2 separate regions of the Homo sapiens genome follow, and region 2 is linked to region 1. A link means that fine-mapping ties the variant in region 1 to the expression of a gene that starts in the linked region. Tissue or cell type: whole blood. Region 1 holds a variant in brackets; the other region holds the start of a gene. Each region is shown on its reference strand, or each on the opposite one.

Evidence for each region. PIP is the estimated chance that this variant, and not a neighbour inherited with it, causes the effect.
Region 2: SIRT6 starts here. The variant in region 1 is the best candidate, but not a certain one, in a credible set for the expression of SIRT6 in whole blood (TOPMed, PIP 0.85).

Annotation. Positions count from the first base shown.
Region 1 is chr1:22,499,114-22,504,113 of GRCh38, forward strand. It overlaps ZBTB40 (zinc finger and BTB domain containing 40), which reads left to right. Exons shown (of 18, transcript NM_014870.4): 4 at 2,379-2,571; 5 at 3,186-3,328. Among named protein-coding and RNA genes, the nearest start is that of ZBTB40, 50 kb to the left of the region's middle. The variant C/T (reference allele first, on the strand shown) is at 2,325.
Region 2 is chr19:4,179,259-4,184,782 of GRCh38, forward strand. It overlaps SIRT6 (sirtuin 6), which reads right to left and starts at 3,305. Exons shown (of 8, transcript NM_016539.4): 1 at 3,216-3,305; 2 at 1,524-1,651; 3 at 1-28. The coding sequence starts at 3,281. It overlaps ANKRD24 (ankyrin repeat domain 24), which reads left to right and starts at 3,431. Exons shown (of 22, transcript NM_001393985.1): 1 at 3,431-3,482. RefSeq lists enhancers at 3,279-3,368, 3,439-3,488.

The sequences.
Region 1 (5,000 bases):
GGGGAGTATCTTTTTCTAAGCCCACTCTCATGGCTATTGGCAGGCTTCAGAAGATCCACTTCCAAGCTTACTCCCTGACTGTTGGCTGGAGACCAGTTCTTTGCCACATGGGTGTCTCCGTAGGGCAGCTCACAACATGGCAGCTTGCATCTCACAGAGCAAGGGCAGAGAGAGAAAACACAGGCAAGATGGAAGTCAAACTAGCCTGACCTCAAAAGTAGCATCCTGTAACTTTTACCATATTCTGCTTCTTAGAAGCAAGTCACGAGGTTCAATCCAACAGCATGAATACCCAGAGTCAGGTATTAGGGTCCATTTTAGATGCTGCCTGCCTTGGGTTCCCTACTGCTGTCAGTGAAAAGGCATTTTAAAGAGATTTCAAGTCAACTAACAAAAGCATGAAAAGTTGATTTAATTTAGCTTTCAACTGACGTCTTCATTTTTTGTTTATTATTTTTTAAATACAAGATGAGTTACCTTAGGTTCTCAGAAGTTTCTTACGCTAGTGATATGTTGATGTGGATTATTAAACTGTGTTTTGTCTATGTGTACTTTTGGAGATGACTGAAAAACACAGGAAACTTTTAAAGTTTAATTTAGCTTTATACAGACATCCTGTGCTTAGGAAGCAAGCTAAAGCAAAGCCAAGAAACACAAGGTCTAACTCGTTTATAATTTCTATTTGGGAGGAGAGGAGAAAGATAAAATCTCTCTAAATAAAAATCTTAAACATATACTTACTACCAGAATTTGTAATAACAGCTGTCTAGCTAAATTTTGCTGTGTTGATACAGTATTCATGAGCTCCTTTAGTGTGGTGGGGAGACGTGTGTGTGTAGAAAACTAACCTTTTGCTCTCTAAAGACTCTGGTGAGAAAATTTTTCTATTTTATAATCTTGACACTAAAAAACATCAAAGGTAGATTGTAGTTTTGTCAAGTAGAAACATAAAGCCTATACATATGACTGTACACGTGAAATTCAGTTTTGGTTACCAGATTTTTTCAAGTAAATTCATTATTGCTAAAGCAGAAATGTGAACCTTACCTTCCAATTGACCTTCCTCGCATTTGCGTGAGAGATGTTCTGTCAAACCAAAGAAAGGAATGCTAATTTTGTTTATTTTACCACTGGGGTTGTTGATGTCTTAGAAGCATCTAGAAGAGTCAAGATGATGAGTTTGGTTTTATATGCGCCCCTGAGACCTCTGGAGGACAAGGTGTGTCCAGCAGAATCTGTGTGGCAGCTCTGGATTGAAATAGTGCAGGGTTAGAGCTGCTTTTCAGAGAAGTTTGCATAAAGGTGATAGTTAAAGCTATACATGTGAGAGCTTTTCAAAAGGGAGCATATAAAAGGAGAAAAAAATAAAAGATTGAGACCAGTCGTAGGTGCTGTTAATGGTTATGGATTTGGAAGAAGAACCAGTGGGAAAGGCTGAAAAGGAGTGGTCAGGAAGGCAAGTTCTTATCCCACATACTTCAGTGCTGCTGAAATCGGAAGAGAATTGTGATACAGAGGCACTGCCAAGTGCCACCGAAAGGTCAAGTGGCACAAAGCCAGAGGCAAGGCTTGTTGTATAAACGTTGGTTAGGGGAAGAATCTGTGAAGCCCCTTCAGGCTGAAAGCAGTCATTCACACGGGGTAATTAACATGTGAGTCATATGTTCTTACAGCTGGCAACTACAAGCCAACACACTGTTAGCCTTAATTGTTACAGACTATATCTAAAATTAATAAGGCCCGTGTCTTTTTAAGTAGTCTGTCATTTATAATGTAAATGATTTAAGGTATTCTTTTTTCCTAAATTGTGAGATTTTAATTGCATTCTCAAATAATAAAATGACAGTTCATTAAATTTAAATTCAGACATCCCTGCCCATGAAATACTTAAAATGCCAGATTCAGAAAGGTATAATTAGGTAAGAAGTGCATTAAGTTTATTAAAAATTCACTGAGCCCCTACTGTGTGCCAGGCTATGCTATTTGCTGCGGATACAGAGCCCTAGAAAGCATAATTCCTGTCTTCAAGAAGTCTAGTAGGAGAAAAAAAAAATTATAATATAGTGTGACAAATGTCAAATTAAAAGCAGTGAAGAGGAGGTAGGGCCTGTGGCCAGGAAAGGCCTCCCAGCAGAGGTAACCCCTGAGCAAGGTTAGAGCATGGAGTCGTGGAATTGGAGTCCTCCAGAAGACAGGGGCAGGAGCATGGGACCGCAGGGCTTGTTGGAACTGCTGCTGGGGAAGAAAGTGCAGTGGGTGAGGAGCTTCAGGAGAAGCTGGCGGGAATCAAACTGTTGAGGACCTTGTTTGCCAAATGCAAGGAG[C/T]GGATGGTTCTTGTGGTTCGCTAATCTATCTTTCTGGGTACTTTTGTTCCATAGATGATAGTGAAATGTTTCGAGGGTGAAGGAGGACATTCAGCATTCCAGAGAATCCTGGGTAAAGTAAGAGAGGAAAGCCTGGATGTTCAAACTGTTGTGTCCCTGTTGAGGCTGTACCAATATTCTAATCCTGCAGTAAAAACAGCACTATTAGACAGGAAGCCAGAAGATGTAGACACAGTGCAGCCAAAAGGTAGGAGAAGATCCTATGCATTGGAATGGCAGGGTTTTATTTTGGGATGATGCTATGAAGTTTGTTCCAATGACATGTTTCTTTGGTGGCTTAGTTATTAAGTGGTTTTCACATAAGTTTCACATGTAAATTCCAGAAGCTGCATGTTAAATATACACCAACTAAATTTGAGTCTCCATTTCTATCCCACAGTTAACTAGTCTGACACCTTGAAGTTGGAGAATATCATCAATGTTCTCCTGCCCGTCAAAAAGCCACACATCCAAATCAATGACTTGAGTACCCAGGTTGGACTGGTTCGCTGACAGCACTTTAAGGCTGAAGTTTCTCTCATTTGGGTTAGGTACAAAGCAGTGGCCTTGCCAACCAGAAGTTAACCTCTGGCTGGCTCTGCAGCTTTGTGTTTCGACAGATAAATGAAACATTTTTCCTTTCATAGAGTTTAAACAGAATAATAAAGTATTTTCCTCTGTAAAAGCGATTCTGCATTCAGGTGCTCAGAATAAGCTGAAAATCACTTTACTATTCTGTTAGATCTCTCTTGACAAACCATGCTGTCATTTTCTTCAAATTGACTAGCTTCTCTTGTGTGTCTCTAACTCTTTCTCCCCCAGGGAGCACAGAGGAGGGAAAGACCTTGTCTGTTCTGTTACTAGAACACAAAGAGGACCTGATACAGTGTGTAACACAGCTGAGACCTATTATGGAGTCCCTGGAAACAGCCAAGGAGGAATTCCTGACTGGCACTGAAAAAAGGGTAACTGTGTCAAGTGTCTCCTCCCTCCTCCTGAATTCATATAGCACTTAAAAAAATGCTTTTGTGGCACATAGCACTTTATACTTTGCAGTATTTTAATACATACTGCATAGTAAGCATCTCGAAGTCAAGGTGCTTGTTTCATATCCTGTTGCATTCCTCGCGGTAGCTTGCTGAGGGCCTTGCACATGGAGCCATAAGGAAAATGGATGGATGGATGGATGGATGTGTGGGTGGGTGGATGGATGGATGGGTGGACAGTTGGACAGATGGATGGATGGACGGACGGACGGATGGACCGATGGACAGATGGATATATGCTATTCCTGCTCTGACTCAGTTTTTACTGTAAACAACTGTATCCAGAATTAAAATGTTAAGGAAATTTTGTAATTATTATGACACCTTTCCTCTTTATAGAAATGTACTGTACATTTGGAATATGTAGAAAATGGGGAAAGCAATCAAAAAGAAAAAATTCAGATTTCTCCACTCAGAGATGACACTGCTAACAGGCTGAAGCATGTGTTCCCCTCTTTCTCATTTGAGTCATCCCAGGATGAGGTTATATAGAACATATGGTTTTCTAACTTGACTTTTTACCTAATATCTTAATACATGTCTATACCTATAATATGGATTTCGTTTCTTTATCATTGAGCATTAGTATCCTTTTTTTTTTTGCTATTAAAAGTGATGTTGTGAAGAACATTCTTGCACATAAATCTTTCCATACCTCTGAAATTATTCCCTTACTATAATTTCTAAGAAGTGGAATTTTGGAATCAAGAGTATAAAAATTTTCAAGCGTTTGATATATATTGCCAAATTGCCCTTCAGGAAGGTTGTACCAATTTACTCTCCCACCAGCTAGCTGCTAAAATCCTCATAAAACTGCTGGCATGACTTCTCAAGGCAACTAGATAACTATGTTTGTTGGTGTTATTGATTTCAACTTTGTGCTAAAAATACTTTTATATCTGGAAGGAAGGAATAGGGATAGAGTACTTTTGTGGCATCAATTCCTAAAACCGTGGGAAGCGACTTAAGTGTTCAGGAGAGAAAACGTTTAGAAGCCACTGATATAATGGCTAAGCCCTGAATTTACAGTGAGGACTAGATCCTCGATTTTATTTTTCTCAGTGATCTTATGTTGCACATGTGCGCACGCACACACACACACACACACAATGGAAACAACCTTTAATCTCAGAATTACATTTTGTGATTTAATTGTTTTTAAATTTTTAAGTCCTTTGAACTTCTTAGAGAAAGAAAATATACAAAGATTAAACTTCTGTTTTTTTTCTCCTTAGTCTTCAAATTAAGTGTAATTTCAGGCACTCAATTTAAGTAAGTTGCTTATAGCTCTAAAAGTTCCTGATTCCCTCTTTAGTGATTTCATTCGATTACTCATTCAGACCTTTTTCTTTTTAGCTAGATTGAATGTGTCCTTTGAACTGTTTCATTATCTTGGTAAAACAGCATTTATAGATAGAGTCCAAACTCAGCTTCATTCTCTGCAGCAAGATAGACCACACTGTCATTTTCTTCTGTCACTTTCAGTTTACTTGACAGAGAAAGCTGAAGCAGAAGAGCTTAAATTAGTTATAAATCACAAAAACACTTCTTAAGATTGGGGTTCCACCAGAGCTTCTTTAAGTGATTCCTT
Region 2 (5,524 bases), not on the chromosome of region 1:
CTCCATGGTCCAGACTCCGTGGGGACCCCTGAAGGTGGCAGGCCGGGAGAGATGGACGGGGAGAGGGGAACAGAAAAAGAGACAGAGGGAGAATCAGAGAGGTATAGAGAGAAAGTTGGAGAGAGAGAAAATCAGGAGACAGAGAGAGACAGGGAGACAGAGAGAGGGAATCAGAAACAGAAATAGAGGGTGAGTTGCAAGAACAGGGAGAGGGGGATAGAACAAGACACAGACAGAGAGATAAAGAGTTAAAGACAAAGCAAGTCAGAGACAGAATTGGAGAGAGACAGAGAGAGGGAGAGGCAGAGAGAGAGAGATGAATTCACACGAAGGCAAAAATGACTTATTCTATTCAACCAACACTGCTGCTGCAATGAGCCCGACGATGCTCACATGGGCCCAAGCCCTGCCCTCCAGAAGCCCTTGATCTTGGGGGAGACAGGTGGACACAGATCCTCTGGCCCCAAGAGTCAAGCCTGGATCAGAGGAGGTACCTGGGCCTGGGGAAGCCCCGTGGAGGTGGGGGCCCTGGGGCACGTGGAAGGGCTTCCTGGAGGAGGCTAAGCAGTTTCTTGAAGGGTGAGAGGGAAGATCAGACAGAAGGGGTAAACAAAGGCCTGGGTGCTGGGAAGAGCCCATGAGTTTAGGAGAAAATGCAAGTGTTTTGGGGGCTGCAGCAGGAGCAGGAGGGGCTGAAGTTGGAGAGGTGATTCAGGGCTGGGGCAGGAAGGGCTTCAGCTTCCAGCACAAGGTATTCAGAACTCTACACTGCCTGGCAATGGGGAGCCACAGCAGGTTATGGAAGAGGAGAAGGAGGAGAAATTCACGCCTTGGCTTTTTTTTTTTTTTTTTTTTTTTTTTTTTGAGATGGAGTCTGGCTCTGTTGCCCAGGCTGGAGTACAATGGCATGATCCTGGCTGACTGCAACCTCTGCCTCCCGGGTTCAAGCGATTCTCCCACCTCGGCCTTCCAAGTAGCTGCGATTACAGGTGCCTGCCACCACACCTGGCTACGCTTGCAAATATGAAAGACTACATTTCCCAGCAACCCTTGCAGCCAGGTGTGATCAGGTGACCGTGTTCTGGCCAATGAGGTGAGTGGAATGCTGGTTGTGACAAGGGACACATCTTTTTGTTTTGTTTTTAGACGGAGCCTCACTCTGTCGCCCAGGCTGGAGTGCAGTGGTGCAATCTCGGCTCACTGCCTCCACCTCCCAGGTTCAAGCAATTCTCCTGCCTCAGCCTCCCGAGTAGCTGGGACTACAGATGTGTGCCACCACAACTGGCTAATTTTTGTATTTTTAGTAGAGACAGGGATTCACCATATTGGCCAGGCTGGTCTGGAATTCTTGACCTTGTGATCCACCATGCCCAGCCAAGGGACACATCTTAAAGGGAGTACCCAGGACACATCCAGGAGGAAAGCAGATGGATGTGTTCTCATTCCCAGATGTGTGTGGCTCGCAGGGAAGCCTCTGGCAGCCTGGTAGGCCTTGCCTCGACTTCCCCTGCACAATCACAGACCTGAAGTCGGGGATGCCAGAGGCAGTGCTGATGCCGGCACCCGTGTGGAACACCACACTGGAAGACTGCCAGACCAGCCTCGCCAGTTCCCACACCTTCCGCTCCAGCTCCTCCGGGGGGTCGAAGATCTGTGGGGGGAGAGAGCAGACGGAGGGGTCAAAACAGTTCCCCCAAGTGGCAAGGCCACGCACGAGCCACAGACTGAGCTGTCCCTGTCTTGCCTGAGGGAGGAAAATGGATTGGAAAAGGCAGCTTGTCCTCATGCCCCTCCTCTTCCTACAACCTTCCATGCCTCCCACCTGCCTTGTCAAAGCCCTAGCCCTTCCCACGGCCCACCAGGCCCTGCACTACCTCCCTTGCCCCCTCCCTGCCCTCTTCTCCTCCCTCTCCCTGCCTCACTCTGCTCCAGCCACACAGGTCTCCTCCTTGTTCCTCTATCACACCAGGCACAGTCCCGCCTCAGGGCCACACCCTTTAATGCTCTTCCCCCAGATACCCACATGGCTCCCTCCCTCACCTCCTGTAACTTGTGGCTTAGATGTCACTTCAGTGACAGTGATGCCTCCCTTGGCCAACTGGTTTCCATGCAACCCCTAGTCAGTCTCCCTTACTAGAAGGAGGGGTTTTTAATCTGTGTTGCTCCTGGCTGTGGCCTTAGTACCTAGAAAGTGCCTGAGCTACAGTAAGTGCTCTATAAATGTTGGTGGAATAAAGTGACTAACAGGCCGGGTATGGTGGCTCACGCCTATAATCCCAGCACTTTGGGAAGCCAAGGTGGGTGGATCACTTGAGATCAAGAGTTCAAGAGCAGACTGGCCAACATGGTGAAACCCCGCCTCTACTAAAAATACAAAAATTAGCCAGGCGTGGTGGCAGGTGCCTGTAGTCTCATCTACTCTACTCAGGAGGCTGAGGCAGGAGAATCGCTTGAACCTAGGAGGCGGAGGTTGCAGTGAGCCGAGATCGCGCCACTGCACTCCAGCCTGGGCGACAGAGAAACTCCATCTCAAAAATATAATAATAATAATAATAAAGTGACTAACAGCAGCAGTGAAGAGTGGGGCTTCTGGACGGGCGCACACCATCAGCGCTCATTAAATGCATGAGTCAGAATGCATGGGCCAGCCTTATGGAATGGGGCCATCTTCACCTCGTTTGCAGAAAGTTTGGAGATGGAGACCCAAAAGGGAAGTGACTTCCCCAAAGTCCCACAGTGCGTGGAGGGGGCAGCCGATCCCTCCACTTCCCCTCTGAGTGGCTGGAGGGATCTTTCTGGCACATTCTGTCCAGTCCCCTCGCCAGGGCAAAACCCTTCCCCATCACCCTCAGGATAAAGTGCCAACTCCCCAGCCTGGCATTTGAGCCCCGTCCTGGCCCGGCTCTGGAAACCTCCCAGGCCTAATCGTTCTCCAGGTGTGTTTATTCCCACCTCCCTTTGCGCCTGTCGTCCCCTCTTCCTGGAACTACATCCCCTCTCTCCCCGATCAGCCCCGACAGGGTGACCACAGAGTTGGGCGTGTTGGCGTCCCCCGGCGCGCAGGGGCGTCACTTCCCGCCCCTTCCTCACTGGGAAGTCCCTCCCATTGTCTAGCCTCAGTGCCCCCTGATATTCCCACAATGCCCCCCTGCCATCCGGCCGCTCCCAGCCCGCGGCCCTGGGGCGCGATGCTCGGGACCCTCAGACGCGCTCACCTCCGGGAGGCCGCACTTGCCCTTGTCCGCGTACGGCGACAGCCCCGCCGCGTAATTCACCGACATCCTCGACTGCCCCACGGGAACAATAAAGTTTCCCTTGTTGAGGCCGCTTCCGCCGGAAGCGGGGCGGGGCGGGGAAGAAGGAGGAACCGCGTTCCAGTCCTGCGCACCCGGCCTCCCACGGCAAGGCGCATGCGCCTCTTGCTGACGCCGCAGGCGACATGTTATCTGCTGTCAGAAGGAAGCCTGCCTCTTTGCATGCAGGTGTTTGCGGGGCTTGGGAAGGGGCTCCCCGATGACCCGGGCGGGAAATTGGGGCGGCCGCCTACGTGAGAGTTCTCCAGTCACCTCTAAAATGCGGGACACAGGCTATCCATGTCCCCACAACCCCTTTTACGGATTAGTAAATTCCGTAAGGACAGAGCCGGACAGCAGGGACCCCAGCCTAAGGGTTTTGAATGCCACGCAGAGTTACCTGAATATCTCATTTGTGTGTGTGTGTGTGTGTGTGTGTGTGTGTGTGACGGAGCCTCGCTCTGTTGCCCAGGCTGGAGTGCAGTGGCGCAATCTCGGTTCACTGCAACCTCCGCCTCTTGGGTTCAAGCGATTCTCCTGCCTCAGCCTCCCTAGTAGCTGGGATTACAGGCGCCCGCCACCACACCCAGCAAATTTTTGTATTTTTTAGTAGAGACGGGGTTTCTCCATGTTGGTCAGGCTGGTCCCGAACTCCTGACCTCAGGTGATCTGACCGCCTCGGCCTCCCAAAGTGCTGGGATTACAGGCGTGAGCCACTGCGTCCGGCCAAGTTATCTGAGTATCATCCAACTGGAGGTTCTGCATTCTGCAGGACAGGTCCTGCTCAAGGTCAATGGGGCTGGTGGCCTGGAGGACTCATTTAAGAATCATGTGTTGAGTACCTACTTTGTACTGGGCACACTGGAGAGCAAAGGTGGTACCATCTATGCCCTGGTGGCTGCGGGTGGACACAAACATGTGACCAGGTAATGGTGACATGGTGTGGTTGGGGTGCAATGGGTGATGCAGAGGGCACAGGGCAGTGAGGGGGCTCACAGGAGGCACCTGACCCAGGCTGGGGGCATCCGGGAGGGCTTCCTGGAGGAGGGGATGTTGCAGCAAAGATCTAAAAAGTGAGTGAGCCGGGCGCAGTGGCTCACACCTGTAATCCCAGCACTTTGGGAGGCCAAGGCAGGTGGATCACCTGAGATTGGGAGTTCGAGACCACCCTGACCAACATGGAGAAACCCCGTCTCTACTAAAAATACAAAATTAGCTGGGTGTGGTGGCCTGTAATCGCAGCTGCTCGGGAGGCTGAGGCAGGAGAATTGCTTGAACCCAGGAGGCGGAGATTGCGGTGAGCCGGAGATCGCGCCATTGCACTCCAGCCTGGGCAACAAGCATGAAACTCCGTCTCAAAAATAAATAAATAAATAAATAAAGAGTGCATGAGTCAGGTAGAGCCGGTTGGGGTGACATGAAGTACAGAAAGAATGTTCCTGGTGGGGGGAACAGCAAGTGCAAAGGCTGAGAAAGAGGAAGAGCATGGCTCCTTCCAGAAACTGAAATCAGTCCAGTGATGATAGGGAAGATCGTGGGTGTCTTCCCGCCAGAGCCAGTTGGCCAACAGGCAGTCCGCTGCCAGCCTGTCTCCTCCCTCGGCTCATCCCCGGCCCCCTGGGGCGGCCGCCTGCTCAGAGCCGATCAGGTGTCAGAGTGGAGCGGCTGGAGCTGCTCGTGGCCCAGCTGGGAGTGGGTAACCGGAGCCGGCAGTGGGCACTGTGGCCGGGAGCTCGGGGCACTGGAGCTGCAGGAGGTAGGGGAGGAAGGAGGTGGGAGAGGCCCAGGACGGAGGATCCCCTTATGGCCCCAGGCCCCTGAGCCCTTGTATGTGGGAGAAAGAAGCCGTGCTGAGTCCTAGCCAGGCTGCGGAGCTACCCAGGTACCCTGACACACACATGCACTCGTTCACCCACGCACTTCCCACTTGCCGGCCTGTGCCCTGCCTAGCTTCCTCCAAGGCAGGTGCTCAACATCCCACCCGGCCATCAGGCCCTTCTTATTTACCATCACCTCTTCCAGCAAGCAGCTTCCTAAATTTAGCAGGCGTTTCTCCCTCCCCCAAGCCCACGGATTGTCTTCTCCCAAGCAGCCTGTGAACTCCTCTGTTGGGTGTCTTATTACCCCCTGCTTTGGGTGTGATTGAATCCTCCAGTCAGAGGTAGAAGAAAAAAGGGTAGGTAGTGAGTGAATGGGCACCGGTGGAGGGGTAGATGAATGGATGGGTGGGT